Regions from separate parts of the Homo sapiens genome. Here all the other regions are reported to be linked to region 2. Evidence: microRNA targets listed by miRTarBase, many of them from high-throughput screens and not tested one by one. Region 2 holds a microRNA gene; each other region holds the end of a gene's coding sequence.
What was found. Region 2 holds the annotated microRNA hsa-miR-221-3p (AGCUACAUUGUCUGCUGGGUUUC, at 1,202-1,224, shown strand). A microRNA usually pairs through its seed, bases 2 to 8, with sites in the 3' UTR of a target mRNA and lowers its output. Matches are read on the target gene's strand: a 7mer-m8 pairs with bases 2 to 8, a 7mer-A1 pairs with bases 2 to 7 and ends in A, and an 8mer does both.

Region 1 (3,210 bases), not on the chromosome of region 2:
AGGCTGGAGTGCAATGGTGCGGTCTTGGCTCACCACAACCTCCACCTCCCAGGTTCAAGCAATTCTCCCACTTCAGCCTCTCGAGTAGCTGGGATTACAGGCATGCACCACCATGCATGGCTAGTTTTGTATTTTTAGTAGAGATGGGGTTTCTCCATGTTTGTTAGTCAGTCTGGTCTTGAACTCCCAACCTCAGGTGATCCACCTGCCTCGGCCTCCCAAAGTGCCAGGATTACAGATGTGAGCCACCCCACCCAGCCTAATACTTTCTTTAAAAACTATAAAAATTACCTGGGCATGGTGGCTCATGCCTGTAGTACCAGCTACTTGTGGGGCTGAGATGGGAGGATCACTTGAGCCCAGGAAGTAAAGGTTTCGGTGAGCCAAGATCCTGCCACTGGACTCCAGCCTGGGTGACAGAGTAAAACCATCTCAAAAAAAAAAAAAAAAAAAAAAAGGTAATTTCCAATGGTACTAAGAGCTGCTTTACATCACGAGTAAGATTACATAGATTCTCTAGTCCCTTTACAGTCCATGTAAACACCTTTGCATAACTAGGTTAAATACCTAGCCCTAACGCTGAACTTATTCACTGATGTTTTATATTTCCTAGTTGATGCCCCATAAGACTACACACACAACAATTATACTATAGTTCAGTTTTATCCTATAGGAAATGACACCTGTCTTCTTTGGAAGGAAGAAAGGAGAATTCATCCAGTTGGCTAGGGAAATTGCATTTCTAACAAGTAACACAAACTAAACATACACTTTGCCCTACCTAATCATCAACCAATTCTAATTTCCTTTTGGTTAATCCAGTGTTTTTTTTTTTTTTTTTTTTGGAGACAGAGTCTTGCAGACCGTGTGCAGTGGCGCTATGTTGGCTCACTGCAACCTCTGCCTCCCAGGTTCAAGCGAGTCTCTTGCCTCAGCCTCTCAAGTAGCTGGGACCACAGCATGCACCAGCACACCAGACCCTTTTTTTTTTTTTTTTGTATTTTTAGTAGAGATGGGGTTTCACCATGTTGCGGCTGGTCTTGAACTCCTGAGCTCAGGCAATCTGCCCACCTTGGCCTCCCAAAGTGCTAGGATTACAGGTGTGAGCCACCACGCCTGGCCATTGTTATTTATTTGACAATTCAAAAATATACATTTTTTTAAAAGTATGCATTTGATTTTGGAATTTTCAATCCATAAATTTAGCTGAATCTTTACAAGCCATTAAGAATGCAACATGAGAATATAGACAGAAACTAAGTTACTCAGTTATCAAGTTGAGCCCTTAAAACTTAATAGATGTAGTTTATGAGGTATACCTTTGTATGAATTATATGCAGCTTTCTGTTAAAGTTCTAAAATTTGCCCTGTTAAAAAGAAAAGTGGTTGTGAAACTTTTTTGTAGGAAAGTAGCATCACTAAGTCTCTATATTGGCCATACAAGTAGCACCTGAATTTTTTTGTTTAATTAACCTTAACTAAAAAACACATACATACATGCTTTTTGGGCAGTTCATTTTATTACAGCCTTTTACTCTCCCTACCCCACTCCACATGCCGCCCCTCCCCACCCCCCACCTGATTTTTTTGTTGTTGTTGTTTTGTTTTTAGTTTTTTAAGTAGAGACAGGGGAAACAGGGTCTTACTACATTGCCAAAGCTGATCTCAAACTCCTATTCTCAAGTGACCCTCCTGCCTCAACCTCCTAAAGTGCTAGGATTACAGGCGTGAGCCACCATGCCAGGCCCTCCTTTTACCCTTGATCTGACTTTAGAAAACTATGTTTTTAATAGTGTTCCCCATGCTGTTATACACATGAAAACAATCTAGATCTCCACTTTATACAATTAGTAACCTACCAGTGGGATCTGTGTTACTGTTCACAGTACATAAAATATGCAAGCAAAGTTGGCTACATAAGAAAATACATTTCAAATACCTTCAAAACTCAAAAAGAACACACACAATTACGTATTTTATCATTTTATTAGGAATAATTCCAAATGGGTTATGAAGAAAATGTATTCATCGAATTTGATGAGTTTTCCAAAAACTCTTAATGAAGATATGTCTGCCCAATAAACAAAACATCAGCAGAACTATCATATACTGAGCAAAAAATCAGGCTGATAACAAAAGCAACATGCAACATAAAAAAGACACAATATAAAGGAAGACAATCTGCTGAGTATTAAAAACCATCTAAATATCAATTCTTTGCAACCAGCACAGAACTAATTGGCTATCAAATCCAAACCCCACCAAGGTTAAGTTTGGCTGATGTAGGCCAGGAGTCAATGTAGGGGGAAAAATTTCCTCAGTGCAAGAGAGCTGAGTAGTGTTTTGGATCTTTCTCTGGCTGGTACAAGCAGTATTAGAAAATCTTTTTGGCAAGGGAGAGAAATAAATACAAATGGAATGCTACATTTTTAAATTAGCAAACTGTCTCAGGAATGATAAAGGTATCAGTAAAGTAGCAAGGGGATAACTTTAAAACATTATTTGTCTGGGGCTCAAAAAACACTCAAAACAATTTATTTAAAGGTTGCACAAGAGCTATGTCCAGGCATTTACGCTTATGGGAAGTAAAATTAAAAGAGGATACTTTTTTCCCAAGGAGAATTTCTTTAAAACCAAGCACATTGCTAAATAGCAACATTATACTCGGTAAACAATAATTGGCAACAAAATAAGTTTAATATTCTGCCCAAACCAGTCCCAGATACTGTTTAATAACCAAGATACAAACTAATTTTGTTGTAACAAGCCTAGACCAATTTTATCAAACATGTCCTTGGTTAGATATCCAATTTCATTTAACGTTTTGAAAGCTCATTTGACAGCCAGTCAAGTCCTTCATACAGACCAGTTCCTTGTGTTGCACAAGTGGCTTGAACATACCACTGTAAAGAGAAGACAAGAAAATACTTGATTAACAAAGTTAATATATAACACCAGTGTTTAAACTTTCTTAATCAAACTTAAGAGTCTTTTCACACCTCTTGCATCTCACAAAACTCTCCCATATTTAAAGCTACTTCTGGCTGGGCGTGGTGGCTCACACCTATAAATCCCAGCACTTTGGGAGGCGGAGATGGGAGGATCACTTGAGCTTAGTAGTTCGAGACCAGCCTGGGTAACATGGTGAGACTTTGTCTCTACTTTTTTAGATTAAATTATTTTTTAAAAATAAAGCCACTTCTACCTATT
Region 2 (3,210 bases):
GTCACAAGGAATCATGTATGCTGTAGAAGTATAGAGATTTTCCACTTTTTTTGTTTGCTGCTGGATCTCCAGCACCTAAGAAAATATGTGGCACTTTATTTAATGTCACTCAGTCAGTATCTGTTGGATAAGTAAATAAATCCAGAGGTTGTTTAAAATTACGTACATGGGAATATTGTCAAAATGTCAATTCATGATCCAAAGAAAATGTGCAATTGAAATCTGATATCTTCTTTTTTCTTCCACAGAGCCCCTCCCCAGAAGGCAAAGGATCACCCAGCTGCTGGAAGGTGTAGGTACCCTCAATGGCTCAGTAGCCAGTGTAGATCCTGTCTTTCGTAATCAGCAGCTACATCTGGCTACTGGGTCTCTGATGGCATCTTCTAGCTTCTGCTTCAGTGTCCTGAGAGAGATTATTGGGCAGTCTTTAATAATGAAAACTTTACCTTGAATTACACACACACACACACACACACACACACACACACACACACACTCACACACACACTCACACACACACAAAGAGAGAGAGAGAGAGAGAGAGAGAGAGACAGAGAGAGAGGAGAGAGTCAAGTTCTAGGGTGTTAAGTCCAACATTATCAGCTGGGGCTTGGGAACCTTCAAGGTTTTATGAATGATGAGGTCTATTTGCTTTCAATACTACAAGGGGGAGGAATCTGGATATTTATCCATGTTTTAGCTCTTACCTGTTTTTGTTTTACCTCTTTTTTTCTCTTTCCCCCCTATGAAAGGTATCATTTGGATAGATCAATCTATTCATCTATCTACCTACCTACCTATCTACCCCTACCCATCCACCCATTTATCCATCCACCCATCCATCCATCCATCCACCCACCTGCCCACGTACCTACCAGTTTATCTATCCGACCTTCCTTCCATCCAGCTTTTTCATCTCTTGACTTTTAGATGGCATTTTCAACATGATGTCATGATTAAATGATGACAACTTGATGATATGATGGTTTAAGGAAATTTTGTTGGTAGTAGGTAAGTCCCAGCATTTCTGACTGTTGGTTTTCTTTTCCTTGTGGTAGAAAAGACAAATGCCAATTTTGAAATCTTGAATGCAGTAGGCAGTTGTGTTGAAATAGTATGTGAGAATTACTTGCAAGCTGAACATCCAGGTCTGGGGCATGAACCTGGCATACAATGTAGATTTCTGTGTTCGTTAGGCAACAGCTACATTGTCTGCTGGGTTTCAGGCTACCTGGAAACATGTTCTCCATTGGCTGTCTCACCAATGCTACCCCTATAATGTTTCTGAATAACTGTTTTCCAGGAGGTATAAACCAGTGGAGTTTATCATTGAATAGAGTGCAGAGAAAGGACCGCAAGAAAGCTGATCACCTCAGCAATGAATGATTTCAATACGATTTCACCCAAATGGTCTCACACACCAGCCTAGTAAACCAGAGATAAGGTGTAATGTCATCCTTCCTTCCTTCTCCCTGCCTCAACTGTCAAAGATTGACAACTTACATGTTGTTTACTTTTTGGCTTCTATTTCTGTTCATAATTATTATCAGAAGGCATAGCACCCACAAGCCTAATCATACTGCCTTACAACCTTATTCCTCTTCATTTTGTCTTCTCACTTACCTGCAGAAACCCAGTTTATTTTTGTTCTCCCTTTACCACACCAGCCTTGTAACTGTTATGAATGACCCTCAATCTCACTGGAATCTGAATCACTCAGGAATTCAAGCAAACTGGATGTTTTAACCACTGTTCAGCTTTCTTATGGAATGACAGAGAACTTGTAAAGATAAAACACCAGTTTGCAGGAAGAAAGGAAGAGAATGGAAATTGCTTCTGGAAAATACTAGTTTTACAATATGTTTTGTTTGTCTGCTCTCTTAAATAAACTTAATCCTATAAACATTTTTTAAGAACTAGCCATTAAGACTGTTAAGTTCTCAATTATAAAGGAATAAAATGTTTTAAGGAGGATTTATTTGCCCTTGCTTATATGAACTGCATATTTTTAGTAGGAAATCATGTAATTTAAATTAGTATTGGTTAACAGATTTAACGTAGAAAATGGACATATAAAGAATACAAGGATAAATGTCTACATGTAATAATGGATGGTAGTGATATAATGCATTTTTGTCATCCCATGCTGAATTCAGTAAAAATAAAGCTAATGACTTGGAGCTTTTAAAAGATTGTACTGTTCTCTGTGTGTGTCTTTTGGCTTCCTACTCACCAATCAGTTCTATTATCTATTCTGTACCTGAGCCACTGGCTTTTGTGACCCGGGAAGAGAAAGTAATTCCACTTAAGACGTTTGACAGGCTTTTAAGAGAAATAAGTGGCTCTGTGCAACATGGTTATGTTTAATAAATCATAATTACCAAAGGGACAGTTTCTCTTCTCCCATGTCCACTCATACTTTTTTTTTTTTTTTTTTAAAGAGATGAGTTCTCATTCTGTCATTCAGGCTGGAGTGCACTGGTACAGAACTCTTGGGCTCAAGTGATCCTCTCGCCTCAGCCTCCAAAAGTGCTGGGATTACAGGCTTGAACCACCATGCCCAGTCCTCCACTCCTTACTTCTGATGTTCTTTGAGTCCCTTTGCCTATCATTAAATGAGAAGGTGTTGACAGTGGTGCCAGGTGTGAAGAACTCCCTAATTCCATTGATAAGTTTACATTTCCCTCTCAGGTACAAGTATTGGGTTGATCCTCAAAGCAAGATTGAATGTTGTGATAATATAATAAGAAAAAGACATATTTGGTCTTCACCCTCAGTTCCTGGAACAGAGCTGCTAAAACTGTCATAATTTTCTAACTAATAGAGGTGATAGCATCTTTTGTTAAAGTATTTGGTCTTAGTCCCCTGTTCCTGACACAAGAGCTTCTAAGATCCTTGGACTCTCTGGAGTGATGAGTGTCTTTCTGTATGCTAACAAGATAATGAGATGACTTGGCTTAGCGGGGAGTAGAGGTGGTGGCAAGTTAGCTTCAGGATGAAGGCTGGTTGTCAGAAAGACCAAGGTATGATTAGAGGGTTGGAGCTTTCAACATTCAATCCCACCCCTGACCTCTGACAACTGAGTTGATCACTGTCTTAGTCCATTCATGCTGGTATAACAAAGTACCCGCGACTGGGTAATTTATAATGAACAGTAATTTATTTTCTTATAGTCCTAGAAGCTGGGAAGTCCAAGGCCAAGGCCTTGGC
Region 3 (3,000 bases), not on the chromosome of region 2:
TCCAGCAGAAAGTATAATAAGAATAAACTACTTTGTAAAATGTGCCATTTTTATAAAGACAACAGTGAGATCCAAAATGAGACAAAGTAGAATTATACTGAATGTTCATTATCCCAAAGTGGCTTAATTTCATTTGCTTGCTGCAAAGACAAAGACTGTAAAAAGGAGCAAAGAAAGTGTGCAAAGCACTTCCTTGGAAGACCTCGTCCACTAACAGATCACAAGAAAAGCAAGTGCAGCCCCTCACACGAAAGGAAGGCAGGCAGTAACATCGGAGACTTCCCAGTCTCCCCGACGTCTGCTCACGCTGGATGCTGGCACTGGCTTATCATGAAGGGAAGGAGAGCAGTAACGCTGGAGACTTCCCAGTCTCCCCGACATCTGCTCATGCTGGATGCTGGCACTGGCTTATCAGCTACCCACTGGCTGAAATGGAAATCAACACCAGCACTTCACGTGACAGCCACATAGTGACAGTCCAGGCACGTGAATGACCCCATTTGTGTTCCCCTAGTTTGTGGAGAGACTTCCTATTGCTGTGCTTCTCACACCCTCTAGTTTTAAGAATATGTCAAATTGATGATATATTATGCAAGTAAACGATCTTATATACACGAATAGTGAAAGGTAATTAGGAATATGCTGAATCACCTGGTGCTGTTGAAGAAAACGTGCAGATGCATCTCTCTCACCTCACCGCTTTCTTCTAGCTTCTGCTATATTTCATCCCCTATTAGTTACTCTCTTTCCCTCCAACTTATCTTCATCCTCAAACCTCAGAGGAAATAATCGCAAGGGTCACATCTGGGAGAGTGGTAGTTGGAAGGCAGCATTTCTAGGGGGTAGGGAAGCACCACCTCCCCAGCACCGCATCCTTACAAAATCTAAAGGGCAACCAATGGGTCAGTCTGGAGGCCGCCATGCTTCTGTAACAACCGCAGCAATTTTATCTTTGCATCTCTTACTGGATTATATAAGCCATCTAGGTAAAGTAAACACTGCCAAAAGCTCCTACCCACTGGAAAGAGAAGTAGAGGGCTTGAAAACACAACTTCGCCAGGCTCCAACACAGAAAGAAGCATCATTCAGAGGCGAGAACAATGCTGTGGACGCCTCCTGATCAACACTCAAGGGATGCAGGAGCTCGGTGAGGACGGTCCCTCAGAGGCAGATGACCCGACCGGCTCAGGTACTGGCAAGCTGGCCACCAGACCTAGACCATGCTTGTCGAGATGCCTTGCTACTTGAGAATAAGGCGAGATCCCAGATTCAAGTGCTAGCAGCATTCTGCCCCTCAGATGCGCCGGCAGGCTCCACTGGCTCCAAAGGACGCCCTTGGATGGGTCAGCAATTCCACGAACATCCACTAAACCAACACTTAGCACTGCTCAGTGGGGTCAACAGTGCCCGGTGGTCCGCTGCAATGAATCCAAACACATCTGTGCCCAGAGCTACAAGGCCATGTGCCCATCAACTGTCCCGACTCGCAGGCAATGCACGCAGCCCTGCACCACTTCCCTCCTGCCCACCACGGAGCAGGGGACAGTTCTGTGAGTGAACAGAAGCAGGACATCGGCAGAGCCAGCTGACGATGGAGGATGAGATGCTGCCGAGATGCTGGAGGGCAGATCACTGAGGATGAACACGCGTTCCTTCCGCCAACAGTCGTGCACCACCTGCTGGGGCTCTGCGTCCCCACCGGCCAAGGGCTGCCTCGCTCTAATGAAGGCCGCTCACTCAGCACAGGGCCAAGTGGCCTTTCCAGCTGCAGGTACCAGAAAAAGCCACTGCCGCTATCACAGGGGGAAGAACGCCCCAAAGACAAAAGGTCATTTGAGATGATTAACATCTTTTAGAGGCCATTTTGGTCATTCTTGAAATCAAAGAGAAACCTTTATTTTCAACAAAACTGCCCAGAAGAGATGGTTCATTGATCCACTAGGAACAAGTCTCTTACCACACACAGCACCAAAATATATATTTAAAAAATTAAAAAACACATAGCCCCCTCACACGCATCCCCCAAAAGCCACACAACCCAGACCAAAGGGAAAACAAATCAAACTCAATGCCCTCACACATGAGCCATCTTTGAATTAGGATTTACAAATTTATATATTCTTTCCTATGGAAAAAGAAAAAAAAAAAAACACAAAAACCACAGGGGTAAGGAAAAACTTGTAGGTGAAGGCCCAATGTCTGCCTAAGCTAACAGAAAGCAGAATCATGATTCGTGCTTTTCCTGTATTTTGAGTGGGATGCAGCCTAACAGCACAGCCCTCCGTGGTAGACCGAATCCTTCAGCAGCCAGAGGCCCCCGAACACTGGAAGAGCAAACCGCAACCTTCCAGATTCTTCAGCGAGTGCCAGAGTGCAGGCTCTGCATCAGACTGCCAAAGAGACGGCAGCTTTCCTTGCAAGTTTTCCACTGCCTACAAAGGCCATTTTTCCCTATAAAAAGATGCCAGGTCAAAAAAAAGTACAAGGGAGAAAAAGAGTTCTCTACTGCAGTAAGAATCTTGCAGTCGCAGGCTGATCTGAGGCAAGTCCCACGACGCAGGGCTGGTGTTGGATCCACCACGCAAGCGCAGGCGCTACTTGGGCTCCTCAATCACACCCTTGCTGAGGTCTGTCATTTTGGGATATTTTACTTTCTTCTGGTCCAGCTCGTTCTGAGCCCAAAGTAGTAGTTTCAGTAATTTTGCCAGTTTGGGTGTTGACTCGCGATTTTCATAATCTAGCACAGCTTGGTTAACTTCACTCCACACCTAGAATATAAATACATCTGATAAAAACCACCATACACGCAGAGCACCAGCAGAGTCTATTAAAAAGAGGCAGTTTAAACAAACATTAAGCTCTTAACTGCGAGACACTCTCAGGACATGAAATACATAGTCCTTGCCTGGGGAAGCTCACAGTCTGGTTGTTAAACGTCACATGCAACCTCGATGGCAGTTAAGTGCCATGAGCAAGCCTTGAACAAAGTGCTGAGGGGAC
Region 4 (3,210 bases), not on the chromosome of region 2:
TGGCCCCAGGAGGTACTAATGAGCACAGATCTGGTTCCCAGCCTGTGCTGAGAGCTGGGCCTGAATCACTATTGCAGGCTTCTCTGTGGTGTCTGTTTTCTCCCCTCTAATTCAGCGGCTGCCTCCTGGGGCTGGGAGCCCTGGGCCTTAAGTCTGTGGTCCTGAGCTGCGTTTTCTGCCTCTCTTCCCAGACCCTGCTCTCTATTCCAGAGGTGGTGAGGGGATGCAAAGAACTACAGGGATTGCTGGAATTTCTGAGCTAAGAAACTGAAAGCCAGAATCTGCTTCACCTCTTTTTACCTGCAATACCCCCTTACCCCAATACCAAGACCAACTGGCATAGAGCCAACTGAGATAAATGCTATTTAAATAAAGTGTATTTAATGAATTTCTCCAAGCTTACGGAATCTTACTTTTTGGGTGAGAGGGGGCGGATGATGAAGTCAGGGAAGAAGCAGCTTGGGCCTCCTGCCTGGGCACCCTCCATAGATCCCTCTCCACCTCCTGCTGCATCCAAAGCCAAGGCTGCCTGCCCTTCCTCCCTTCCTCTGCTTTCACCAAAACTCTGGGCACTGGACTGCTTGTTCCCTGGCTCACCGCCTGGAGGAAACAGAAAGGCTTCATTCTCTTACTTTCCCCAGCCCCCTCGGGGGTATACCCTGGCAAATATGGGGGTGAGGACAGAGAAGCTCAGTTCATTACTTCCTGCCCTGAACTTGGGCACCTTGAAGATGCTTCTGCCCCACCTACTCAACCTGTTGTTACTGTTCTGGTGCCTCCTCTTCACCAGACTAAGCTTAATCCCCAGCATCCAGCAAGTGCCCGGCACGTGGTAAAGGGATTGTGGCAGAAATGAACGCAAGGTCATGGCCAGGCTCCCCGAGGTGGGAGGGCAGTCCCTAACAGCCACGGATGCCTGGCGGGGCGCTCACTCCACCTCGCCGCCCCGCCTCTGAGGGCGTGGTCTTGCCCCGGACACCAGTCCTGGGGAGGGGGTGTGGTCAGGGCGGGGCATGCAGGCCACGCCCCCGGAGGAGTCACGTAGCTCTGCGACATCCGCAGCCTCATTTACCAGAGGGAGCCAGGGCTGCAGCCTCATCTGTTTGCGGATCAGAACCCGAGCTGTGCTTGTGGCTGCGGCTGCTAACTGGCTGCGCACAGGTAAGGCCAGGCAAGGCGGGAGCCACTCAACATCTCCGCTTCATTTCCTTGGCTCTTCCCCTGCCATCCTCGTCCTGCTACCTGGGACTCCGGGATGTGCCCTTTCGACCCTTTCCTAACATCTTTGCTCCTTTCCGCGTACTTGAAACCCCATGGCTCAACCTCTTCTGTTCTATCCCTCTTCAGCTCTCCCAGCTGGACCTCAGCTTTTCCAATCCCAAATCCTCCTCTACTTGTTGGATTTTTCCTTGGAGTCTGTCTCTCCTACCCAGAGCATTTCCTTCTCAGCCTGCTCCCTCTCCTCCTAGGCTAGGTCCTCTCTCCAGTTCTCCCGCCTTCTCTGCCCCCCGGTCTAGGTCTCTCCCGCTGACTGGTTAGCCTGCATCACCACTAGCTCCCCTCAGTCTCATCTCTCTCTCAGGCTCTCTACTCCTTTCAGCCTTGGTCCTCTGCCCTCCCGTCTGGGTGTCTGAGTTGTGGGGAATTGAAGTGCTTCCTATTGCTATCCTCCTGCCAAACAGGTGAAGTGCTTCCTGGGCACAGAGATGACCCGGAGGTGTCACTAGCCCTAGTCTCCACACACTAACACAGCTGACCCGCTGGGCCCTCTTTCCTACATCACTGCAGCCCCACTGGGGCCAACCTCTGGTACTGGGTGGGAATAGGCAATAGGCATAGGCAGGCAGGTTTGGAGTACAGAAAAGGAGAAGCTGCAGGAGCCTGTGACTGGTATTTGTGCCACTCCTACTCCCTACCTGTTCTTCCAACCTTTTCCTCTAGAAGCTGAGAGAAGAGGGTGGCAATAAGTACTTTTGCCTCATTCTGAAGCCTTGGAAGTAAGTACACTTTCCCTAGGGGTCCTGTGGAGGATGAGAAAAGGGAAGCTGGAAAGGCCAGGACTTTTGCCTACCTCAACAAGGGACCAAGTTCAGTGAAAGAAGGGTTGGCATCCTTGATTGGGCAGCAGATTTATCAGAAGAGCTGTGGCTTCAGGGCTGCTCACCTCCCCACCCCCACCCTGCATCTTTCCCCAGGGCTGGGAAGGATGCCTACCAGGGACAAAAGGAGATGTGGGAACTGGAGCCCTAAGCTTGCTAGCTGTCAGAAGGACTGGTGCCACTTGATGCCCAGGACTCATGCCAAGGACTGCTGCCCTGTTCCCAGCCCCTTGCTTGATGGGGAGGCCATTTGGCCCATCTGGCCAGGAGAGGCAGCAGAGGGTGAGGTCTGGCTTTTTTATCTTGTCTCCACTCCAGGGAGCTGTCACCATGCCTCACTCGTACCCAGCCCTTTCTGCTGAGCAGAAGAAGGAGTTGTCTGACATTGCCCTGCGGATTGTAGCCCCGGGCAAAGGCATTCTGGCTGCGGATGAGTCTGTAGGTAAGTGGACATCTGTAGCCAGGTAGGGTACAGGTGGCTAGGGGACCCTGGGGATGTTCTCACTGCCTCTCTTTGTTTGCCCCTAGGCAGCATGGCCAAGCGGCTGAGCCAAATTGGGGTGGAAAACACAGAGGAGAACCGCCGGCTGTACCGCCAGGTCCTGTTCAGTGCTGATGACCGTGTGAAAAAGTGCATTGGAGGCGTCATTTTCTTCCATGAGACCCTCTACCAGAAAGATGATAATGGTGTTCCCTTCGTCCGAACCATCCAGGATAAGGGCATCGTCGTGGGCATCAAGGTGCAGCCCCTGGCCCTGCTCTGAATGGAAGCTGGGTGTGAAAATAAGCTTGTGTAGGAGGGGTAGCAAGGAGAATCCTGCCTGGATTCAACCCTCTGCTTGTACTTCCTCTACAGGTTGACAAGGGTGTGGTGCCTCTAGCTGGGACTGATGGAGAAACCACCACTCAAGGTATAGGATGGGTGGGCTTGAGGACCAAAGAGGTGTTAGATAGTTGATGCTGGTAAAAGAGGGGCAGAGTAATGAGGTTGGCACTGTGCTTGCAGGGCTGGATGGGCTCTCAGAACGCTGTGCCCAATACAAGAAGGATGGTGCTGACTTTGCCAAGTGGCGCTGTGTGCTGAAAATCAGTGAGCGTACACCCTCTGCAC
Region 5 (3,000 bases), not on the chromosome of region 2:
GCAATCATCTCCATCCGGCAGGAGCCTACTAACAGCCAAATTGACAAAAGTGACTTCATAACCTTCGGCAAAAAGGAGGAGACCAAGAAAAAGAAGAAAAAGAAGAAGGGTAACAAGACCCAGGAGAAAAAAGAGAAAGGGAACAGCACGACTGACAACAGTGACCAGTGAGGTCCTCAAATGGAAACAAGCCACTTAGCCAGTTTTTGTAATAATGGCAAATCTCTCCCATGTAGCAATTCCCTGCTCCTTTTTCCTATCTACATGAGCCCTCTTAGAGACCTCAGAAATCTGCAGAAAGTTCCCTGTGTCTGTCTAGAACGCATTTAACAGGTTTTGTCGTAAAAGCTTTACTAAGTCTGGTGTTAACTCTTTCTCTCCACTCTGGCTTGTTTTCAGAACCTAAAAAGCAGACCCAAGTTTCCTTTCTCCTCCGCCGCAAAGGAGAGGCTTCCCAGCCCCGCCAGTGAGAGGTTGGACTCTCTGCCCTGTGCTCCGGGGATCCTGTCTTGATGACACTTGCAGGGCAGGCTGAAAAGTTTTGAGATTGAGCAGCTTGGGAGTTTGTGGCCACTGGGTATGTGTGGCTACCGCGGGTATGCGAGTGCCAGATATTGGCTGAGACGAGCCAGCTTAGACTAATTGGTACAAGGAAGGCAAGAAAACAAAGACAAATAAACAGCGGAAGTTATCAGTATGGAGGGGAAGTGTAAACTTAAAGGGACCAGACTTTCTAAATCTTACAACTCAAGAGGTGGCAGCCACCCTCTAGGAGACAAAACTACCCCCACTGACAAGGCTTTAGGAGACCCTAAAGTCTGTTGGCTGTGACGTCATTATACCTAAAATCTGCATCATACCTGCAAGCCAACAGTTCAGTGTTTTAACAGAGAACCACCCTGGGAAACAGAAGCAGATCTGATGTGTTTCCTATACATGTCCTGTGCTCACTTTATTAAAAATTCTTTTGCACACAATGTTTATGAAAAGGCCAGATCCTTTTCCAATACTTATGCAAAAGCAAAAGAAAACCCCGACACCTCACCTTTCGCTGTTTGTTGTTTCATAGATTTATTTAAAAAAAGAGAAAGTCTATAGCTATAAATCTTTAAAGAGAAATATGAATACAATTCCCCTAAACTCTCCTCAAAAGAGAATTCAGTCTACAGCCATTTAAATGATCATTGCTGCTACAGAAGTGCTTTAAGAGAATTGCCTGAAACATCTGTATTATATCGGCCACCTGCCAATCACAGCTTTACTCTTTCAGGTCACTCTGGGGCTGCCTCTTGCATGTATTACTAAATAAAATGATCTCTCTTTCTCTCTCTCTCTCTCTTTTCTAAGAAACAATTATGTGCACTTTGATACACAACCTTCTCTAACCAACTATATATCAAGACCCAAAAATTGAAGAAAAATATTGTTTTCTCATACAGTGAGCAGATTTTTCAATCTACTAATTCTGTGACTTGTCTTGGTGTGCTAGCCTACACCTTCTCTTTGGTTTAGTTTTCCTTTTCTATAACACTCTGAATTGCTAATCTTACTAACACCTATGATGTTACCTGAAATCAATCTCCCATATGTATGCTGTATGCTATGCTAAGACTCCTGAAATATACTTACTCTGTGCTTGTGTATGTGAATGTTAATGCAACTATTACCTAGAGTGAACTTTAAGCTTTATTGTTGAATGTAATTCCATTATATTTCCTTTTGTACACCTGTGAAAAAGTGGAGTAGTGTTTTTTTAACCATTGTTAATCAGCTTTTGTGTATGAAAGACACAGTAAAATTTCTTTCTTAAATCAAGATACTGGTGATTCAAGGAATTTTATTTATGGTCCAGCCAAGAGCCATCTCGTGCCAAGACTTCTGCTGGCAAGGGAATGGATAAAGCTGTTTTGTTCTAGTAACAATTTTGGAATGAATACTGACAATATTCCATGAGGGTGTGCAAGCACAAATTTTACCAATCTGACCTCTTTGAAGTTGCAGAATGCTTTGAAATTCTAATGGTATCTGAAATATCAGCTCATAGAAAGTAACAAAATTTGCTGTCACCTTAAATAAGACATTTTAATTTTGTTATAATGTACAATTTAGAAGTTTGATTAATTATATTATCTATTTAGGCATTAATATAAAAGAGGTAGGAGTCTGTTATTTAAAAAAAGCATTAAATTTAAAAAAAAACTGTCTTGTCTACTTTTAGCTTCATTCTCCCATATTTTGAAGGGTGTGTAACTTCAGCTCTGCAGGATTGCATGGGGTAAAACTTGTTACCAACACATGTGAACCATTGCTACATTGTAGGTTGTGATCATTTTGCCCCACTGAAGCCCATGTATCTGACCTTACGTGCCTTTTGAACTAGGAGAATCGGGCTAATTTATTAATGATGATAATTATAATGTATCTGTACAGCACTTTTTACATTTGCGAAGTGCTTTCCAATCCATGTTAGTTACTAGTTATTACAGCTGTAAGGATAAAACACGTCATGTGGATTCATTTTGAATTGGTGCTATTGGTATTTCCTCTGTTATTGCTAATAAATGAAAATGGTGGTATGAAAGAAATGGTGGTCATTTCTAAGAATAGGAGGAAATAGAACACTGATAAGCAATTAATACTGAAGAAGATTGCTGCAGTATGAAACTCACTGTAACACTCTCTTATCACGTTAGCTTTTATGTCCATTACTAAGGCAAAAGCCCCAGTGGAATCAAGATTCAAACTTCATATCATTAGAATGGGCAGCCAGGAGGTTGCTGCGTCACTTTGTAGTTACACTATTTCAGTTTTCTCTAATAAGAATTGCAACAAACCCATTTTTATCACAAGAGCCCTTCTAGGCATCTTTTTCATTACTTGTTTAGCCCTTGCACCTCTCTACAATTGGAAAGCCAAGTGACACCCCAAAGAAATGAACTTTTAGGTCAGGGATAGTGGCTCTTGCCTGTAATCTCAGAACTTTGGAAGGCCAAGGCCAGA

Region 1: miRTarBase lists ARF4 as a target of hsa-miR-221-3p. Seed matches in the 3' UTR shown: 8mer at 2,420-2,427.
Region 3: miRTarBase lists GID8 as a target of hsa-miR-221-3p. The part of its 3' UTR that is shown has no 7-base or 8-base seed match.
Region 4: the mRNA of SPAG5 is a reported target of hsa-miR-221-3p. The part of its 3' UTR that is shown has no 7-base or 8-base seed match.
Region 5: the mRNA of PCDHA4 is a reported target of hsa-miR-221-3p. Seed matches in the 3' UTR shown: 8mer at 231-238.

What each region holds. Positions count from the first base shown.
Region 1 is chr3:57,569,396-57,572,605 of GRCh38, forward strand. It overlaps ARF4 (ARF GTPase 4), which reads right to left. Exons shown (of 6, transcript NM_001660.4): 6 at 1,968-2,903. The coding sequence ends at 2,817. It also overlaps a transcript of PDE12 not described here. Among named protein-coding and RNA genes, the nearest start is that of PDE12, 15 kb to the left of the region's middle.
Region 2 is chrX:45,744,194-45,747,403 of GRCh38, reverse strand. It overlaps MIR221 (microRNA 221), which reads left to right and starts at 1,138; the gene lies at 1,138-1,247. MIR222HG (miR222/221 cluster host gene) reads left to right here. Exons shown (of 2, transcript NR_170290.1): 2 at 1-2,190. MIR222 (microRNA 222) reads left to right here and starts at 280; the gene lies at 280-389.
Region 3 is chr20:62,944,507-62,947,506 of GRCh38, reverse strand. GID8 (GID complex subunit 8 homolog) reads right to left here. Exons shown (of 5, transcript NM_017896.3): 5 at 1-2,768. The coding sequence ends at 2,595. Among named protein-coding and RNA genes, the nearest start is that of SLC17A9, 6.7 kb to the left of the region's middle.
Region 4 is chr17:28,574,752-28,577,961 of GRCh38, reverse strand. SPAG5 (sperm associated antigen 5) reads left to right here. Exons shown (of 24, transcript NM_006461.4): 24 at 192-388. The coding sequence ends at 263. ALDOC (aldolase, fructose-bisphosphate C) reads left to right here and starts at 1,067. Exons shown (of 9, transcript NM_005165.3): 1 at 1,067-1,161; 2 at 2,418-2,541; 3 at 2,628-2,839; 4 at 2,956-3,010; 5 at 3,106-3,210. The coding sequence starts at 2,430. RefSeq lists an enhancer at 665-844 and a silencer at 895-1,134.
Region 5 is chr5:141,009,767-141,012,766 of GRCh38, forward strand. It overlaps PCDHA4 (protocadherin alpha 4), which reads left to right. Exons shown (of 4, transcript NM_018907.4): 4 at 1-2,581. The coding sequence ends at 171. PCDHA1 (protocadherin alpha 1) reads left to right here. Exons shown (of 4, transcript NM_018900.4): 4 at 1-2,581. The coding sequence ends at 171. PCDHA2 (protocadherin alpha 2) reads left to right here. Exons shown (of 4, transcript NM_018905.3): 4 at 1-2,581. The coding sequence ends at 171. PCDHA3 (protocadherin alpha 3) reads left to right here. Exons shown (of 4, transcript NM_018906.3): 4 at 1-2,581. The coding sequence ends at 171. It also overlaps PCDHA5, PCDHA6, PCDHA7, PCDHA8, PCDHA9 and PCDHA10, and 7 more genes. Among named protein-coding and RNA genes, the nearest start is that of PCDHB1, 40 kb to the right of the region's middle.